2 linked regions of the Homo sapiens genome follow. The protein of the gene in region 1 purifies or fractionates together with the protein of each later gene. This does not show direct contact. Each region holds a gene or a part of one and is shown in the gene's direction. Other genes may lie near its edges.

Region 1 (2,752 bases):
GAGCGAGACTGTGTCTCAAACAAACAAACAAAAAAACAAAAAAAAAGAAATACAGACTGAAAGCCCCAGCCTAGACTTGCTGAAACATAAGCTTTTTTTTTTTATATCAAGATCCCCAGGTGATCTGTGAGAATTACTCCCCTAGTATCTCATTTTATAGATGGGGAGACTGAGAGCCAGAGAGAGGAAGGGACTTCCTAGAGTGCTGGAGCTGACAGTCCTGTCCCTGCCCTGGTGCCCCTTCCAACTGCATTTTACCAGAAAGGCTGTCTGACTTCCTGGGGAGGCTGAGAGTGAGGAGGGTATGAACCACTAGAAGCAGATGATCTGTAGAGGGGTCTGCGTTGAGCACATTGTGCAGAATTGGTGTCCTCTGCAAAGCTGCCCAGGTTTTAGCCTGCCTCAGGCCTCTCCTCTTCTGGGGCCAAGGGACAACCAGCTCTCAGCCCGGGAGCCTCTCTTTGAGGGGGAAGGTGGTGGTTCCCTGGTGCATCACCATCAGGAGATGATGGTACCATCAGCAGGCATTGTCAACACACCCTGGAGGCAAATGTCTTGAGTGGTGAGAGTACAGGTGGGCAGTGATATAACTTAGCTGGCTCCCAGTACTCTTGAGTGGTGAGAGTATTGGAGGGCAGTGATATAACTTAGCTGGCTCCCAGAGGGCAGGGGGCTCTCCAGTCCCACCGTCCACTCCTGCCTCCCTCAATTCCCCAGAGGGATAGACACTTGTGGAGTGAGGATTCTTCCAGGTGGGAGACACCCCCATCATTCTCTTGGGAGTTGTATCTCTTGCCCATCCCCAACTGTTCTATCCATATGCAGGTGCAGATACAAGTGCAAGGCAGCCCGGCACATTCCTGAGTGTTTGGGGCAGGGCTGAGTGAAACAAAGGCCAGCTTCCCGGGCCAGCCCTCACAGGCCTGTGTGACAGCATCCCCAGAACATTTGAGTGTGCGAAGGCCCTCTGGGAGACACTAAGTCAGGGGGCTTCTGGGGAATGGAAATAGAGATGTTCCTGTGCCCCAGGAGTTGTCTGATTTCTCTAACTGCCAGCTGCTGGAGGGCAGGGATGTTGTCCTGTTCATCACTGGGTCGTCACTAGGCAGGCCTTCATCATCTAGCTGGGATGTGTAGCTGGTAGAGGTGACGTCATAGTGTGACATTAGGAGTTTGTATGTGACTTGAGCATGATGCTTAATGTCTTTCAGTTTTCTCATCTATAGAATGGGCTTACTAATTTCTACTTCATTTAGTGTTTTTTTTTCTTTTTTTTTTTGGTGGCAGGTTAAATGACTGAAGTAAGCACTGAATAAACAATGTGGTTGTTATTAAAGTAGATAGTGACTGTGCCATGGGACGGATGGGAGGCCGAGGCGATGGGGGCAGTGCTGTGAGTCCAGAAGAGGAAGAAATCCTGCCCAAGTGAAGTAGTCAGGGCAGACTTCTTGGAGGAGGTGTCTCCAAAGTCAGGCATTGAAGGAGGGCAGGAGGTGGTGGAGCAGGGGCCTTCCCTGGTGCAGAGGAGAAGGGTGGTGAGTGGGAGGTCTTGGGTGATCTGTGAGGAGCTGAGCCCGGCTGGTTGAGGTGAGGAGGTGGTGGGGTCGGCAGTGAGAAGGTCGCACAGTTGGCCCTGCAAGGCGGATGGAGCTGCTTTCTGTTGCCCAAGAGCATGACAGGGGCTGGTCAGGATCCACAGAGTTCTTTCTGCTTCATCGCCTTGTGCTCCTGCCCCTGGGAGCTGTGGATCCCAGATCCAGATGACAGCCCACCTTGCTGGCAGGATGCGCCAATCCCCTGGGCCTGAAGAATAACAGCATCCCTGACAAGCAGATCACGGCCTCCAGCAGCTACAAGACCTGGGGCTTGCATCTCTTCAGCTGGAACCCCTCCTATGCACGGCTGGACAAGCAGGGCAACTTCAACGCCTGGGTTGCGGGGAGCTACGGTAACGATCAGTGGCTGCAGGTGGGTCAGCCTTCTTGGGATATGGGGCTGGGGTTGGGTGGGATGAGGTGGGACTGCCAGATCTTTGACCTCTCTCCAGCCCAGGCTTCTCTTCTGCTCCCCAAAAGAGTTCTGGAAAAGCCTTGTTTTTCTTCGGCTTTTCTTTCTTCTTCCCACCTGTACTCCCTTCTCTTGATCCTGCTTCCACCAAGGTGGAGAAAGGGTGTGTGTGTGTATGTGTGTGTGTGTGTGAATGTGTGTGTGTGAGTGTGTGAATGTGTGTGAATGTGAGTGTGTGTGAATGCGTGCGTGTGAATGCGTGCGTGTGAATGTGTGTGTGAATGTGTATGTGTGAATGTGTGTGTGTGAATGTGTGAATGTGTGTGTGAATGTGTGAGAATGTGTGTGAATGTGTGTGTGAGAATGTGTGTGTGAATGTGTGTGTGTGAATGTGTATGTGTGAATGTGTATTTGTGAATGTGTGTGAATGTGTATGTGAATGTGTATGTGAATGTGTATGTGTGAATGTGTGTGAATATGTGTGTGTGAGAATGTGTGTGTGTGTGTGAATGTGTGTGTGTGAATGTGTGTGTGTGAATGTGTGTGTATGTGTGTACACAAGGGGAGAGCCATTCCATGGGCTGCCACAGGATTGACAAGGCTCAGCCTATGGACAGACAGCAGGGCGGAGGCGGAAGAGGGAGACATGACCCAGGCATCTTGGGACCTCTCCCTTGAGCACAGCATACATATTCTCTGACTCAGTGTCTAAGAAGCCACCATGTGACAGCCCTTGTCTGTCATT
Region 2 (3,654 bases), on another chromosome or scaffold:
CTAGAGTTTTCCATGTAGTGCCTGCAATAGTGCTGTGGGGTGGGAATTATCATCCCCATCTTACAAATAGAAAAACAAAGTCTTACAGGGGTTAAGGAGGTTGATTAAGACCATAAAATCTGTGAGGTTTCAAAGCCCCAGTATTCGAGCCTAGTCCATCTGACTTCCAAGTCTTGGCCTGTAACCACTGCAGTGTAATTACTGCTAATTAAGTTTTACATACACGGGTTCTTTTAGATAAGAAATGGCATACTGTTGGATAATAGACCTCTGATCCAGAGGAGGCCCAGAAAGTACAAAAGCAAAGGTGAACTCACAGAACAAGTGGCTTTGGCACCACGTGTAGTCAGCTCCTGCTATAATTAGGTGCTGTGACCTTACTGTCGGACTCTACATGTTGAGCTAATTAACTAGAATTGAAAATGAAGGATGTATGTTATCCATAAAAATTTTTTATGGCGCGTTCAGGGTGATTTTTGCTTCTGCTGCAGGAGAGAAAAAGTGGAGCCTGGCAGTTCTGACCCTGATCCCTGTGTTTCTCAGGTTCGTGGTGCACGGCTTAACCACGGGAGAGCAGTACATCTTCCGAGTCAAGGCGGTCAATGCTGTGGGGATGAGTGAAAATTCCCAGGAATCAGACGTCATAAAAGTGCAGGCCGCACTCAGTAAGTCACTCACAGGCTGTTGTGTGCCGATTGCTCCCATACACTGTCATTTCTGCATGAATAAACATTTGTGATGCCATTTGGAATGTCATTGAAGGGGAAAAGGGGACTAAATTCCTGAACAGAGAACTTGAGTTTCTTTGAAGCCTCTCGGTTGGCTGCTTGTCTTGGAAATGACAGTGTGAGAGGGAGAAATGATAATACACTAATAAAACGCAAATTAAAAATAGAAAACATTGTTGTTGCCAAATACCTGTACTCATGTTAAAATATATGCTGTAGGCTGGCGCAATGGCTCATGCCTGTAATCGCAGCACTTTTGGAGGCCAAGGTGGCTGGATCATGAGGTCAAGAGATTGAGACCATCCTGGCCAACAAGGTGAAACCCCGTCTCTACTGAAAATACAAAAATCAGCCTGGCATGGTGGCGGGCGCCTGTAGTCCCAGCTACTCGATAGGCTGAGGCAGGAGAGTCACCTAATCTGGGAGGCGGAGTTTGCAGTGAGCCAAGATCGTGCCACTGTACTCCAGCCTGGGGGGACAGAGCAAGACTCCGTCTCAAAAATATATATATGCTGTAGGGGATACATTTCTCTTTTCAAAATATGTGCTAAAATACAGCAACATCCATGACCTTTTTAGCTGTTCTCAGTTCTAGGAACTTTAGTCACTTCAGAGAATGTCATATTTATGTAACTTTGAGACTTTGTTGGTAAATAGTGGTGTTTAACAGTTTTTATTATTTTGATCAAACGAGACAATTGGGATCCTAAATCTCAGGGACCGTCCCTAGAACAGTTGCTGTATCAAGCTGTGCTGCAGCCTCGTGGCTTTCTGTTTTCTCATGAAATGCACCTCAGGAAGTCAGTGCGCATACTCAGAAACATTTTGAAACACAAATGCCACATGGGACACCCTTGGATTCACAGGGTTATCTTCCCACTTCAGAGGGAACTATGTGGCTCGTTGATGATTTTTCATCTTTGACTAAATTTGCAACATTTTCAGAAATTAAAATTTATCTTCTAATGATATTGCTGTTGGATTTCCAAGGAATGTCAAATCTGATAACATCTAGCTAGGTACAATAGCGCTGACTCTTTTGTTTTAAGATTAATCTCCTCTCAATTTTTTCCAGGAGGGACTTTCAAACATTCCCATTTTCTTTTTAATGTCATTCCTACTAAAGGAAAACCACTTTCTTTTTTTTTTTTTTTCGACGTAGAGTCTCGCTCTGTTGCTCAGGCTGGGGTGCAGTCGTGTGATCACAGCTCCCTGCAGCCTTGAGCTTTTGGGCTCAAGTGATCCTCATGCCTCAGCCTCCTGATTAGCTAGGACCACAGGCACCACCACCACGCCCAGCTAATTTTTTGATTTTTTTGTAGAGATGGGGTTTTACTATGTTGCCCAGGCTGATCTCAAACTCAGGAGCTTAAGCAATCCTCCTGCCTCGGTCTCCCAAAGTGCTGGGACTACAGGCATGAGCCACCGCACCTGGCCTGTTTTTATTCTATGATAAGAATCACTTAATTCCAGTCACCTGTGTCTCAGGTAACAGAGGATGGCCACATTGAGGTGACTCAGAGCTGGGGCAAGCAGACTCAGGCCCATCCGTTCTCGACCTGTTAGGAGAAGGCGGTCCGTTTCAAATGCCCTGCTCAAACAGGGAAACACGGATTCACACTCATTTGAAGGAACCTGAAGTTCCTCTAACTGTGCAGGAAATTAAAACAAACTGGAATCGTATCTGTCATCTCTGGCCACAGATGCAGAATAGTTATTCCTTATGGTTGTAAAAGTGAAAGCTCCTTCGCCAAGCTTCTTTCAAGGGGCCGAGAAGACAGAACATCTTCTGCTGTGTCAAATGTTCATACCAGATTTAAACCGTTCATCCTATGGAAGCCTTAGTAGATACACTTAGAAATAGCAATACATATATATGAGATAAATTTTTATTTATTTTTGTACTCATCCCCTTTAAAAAGGTGTAAAGACCAAGGTGGTTAAGTGTGGGTTGAGAGGGATCAGAGGGCACAGTGTTCAGGCCCGTCTCCACGTTGCTTCCTCCTCCCTCTGCCACACTGGAGCTGGCTGCCCCGGGGACAAAGCCCCCAGCTGAGGCCCTCGGTAACTCCCTGGTTGTGCTTCCTTGCAGCCGTCCCGTCCCATCCTTATGGGATTACGCTCCTCAACTGTGACGGCCACTCCATGACCCTCGGCTGGAAGGTCCCGAAATTCAGTGGTGGCTCGCCCATCCTGGGCTACTACCTGGACAAGCGTGAAGTTCACCATAAAAACTGGCACGAGGTCAATTCCTCACCCAGCAAACCGACAATCCTAACGGTCAGTTGGTTTTTATTCCTTCGTCTATTTTTGCCTGGGTGGTTCTTTACATTTTTGGCAATGTTTCTGCGTTTGATGACATTAGATAGTTTGATACAGACACAAAAATGGATTAAAAAATAGCATCATGAGATCATGAAGTTTTGGAGCTAAAAAGATCCTAGGAATCATATTCTTTTTCTTTCTGAGAAGCAGTGAAGAAGGGAGCTCAGTGATGGAGTGGGCCTGACAGTGAGTCCATGACCTCTGGTGTGACCAGCATCTGGTCCCAGTACCTGTGGTAATGTCCCTTGTTCTAGGCTCTGAGGCCTTGAGGGCAGGGACGGAGTCTCACATGTGTGCCTGAGGGGAGGGTCACGCTGAATGTCTGTTTAGGAAGAGAGTAATGTTGGCTCTCTGCTTGTCACCCACCATTTCCCTGAGACATTCTTGTATTTCAGGCCTCCCAGAGAGTCCCTTGCCTCAGTGCCCCTGGTGCTCAGGTGCAGAGTGTGGCAAGGACATCGACTTGGAGCTCAGAGATCTGGGGTCAGATCCAGACACCCCCTTGGCAGCCATTGCTCTGTTTCCCTGTCCGGCCCTTGACCCCTCATCTGAGCATAGATGAATGACCCTCATCTCACACTACAGCTCCCGTCCGGACTGT

The links.
Region 2: the proteins of MFGE8 (region 1) and MYOM2 purify together in Homo sapiens (co-immunoprecipitation; one large-scale study listed by IntAct). This does not show direct contact.

Annotation. Positions count from the first base shown.
Region 1 is NC_000015.10:88,900,767-88,903,518, reverse strand, and holds part of MFGE8 (lactadherin isoform a preproprotein), read left to right. Parts: exon of another isoform or gene 1-1,336; intron 1,337-1,783; coding exon 1,784-1,968; intron 1,969-2,752.
Region 2 is NC_000008.11:2,093,427-2,097,080, forward strand, and holds part of MYOM2 (myomesin-2), read left to right. Parts: intron 1-543; coding exon 544-665; intron 666-2,820; coding exon 2,821-3,008; intron 3,009-3,654. UniProt on the Homo sapiens protein: Major component of the vertebrate myofibrillar M band. Binds myosin, titin, and light meromyosin. This binding is dose dependent.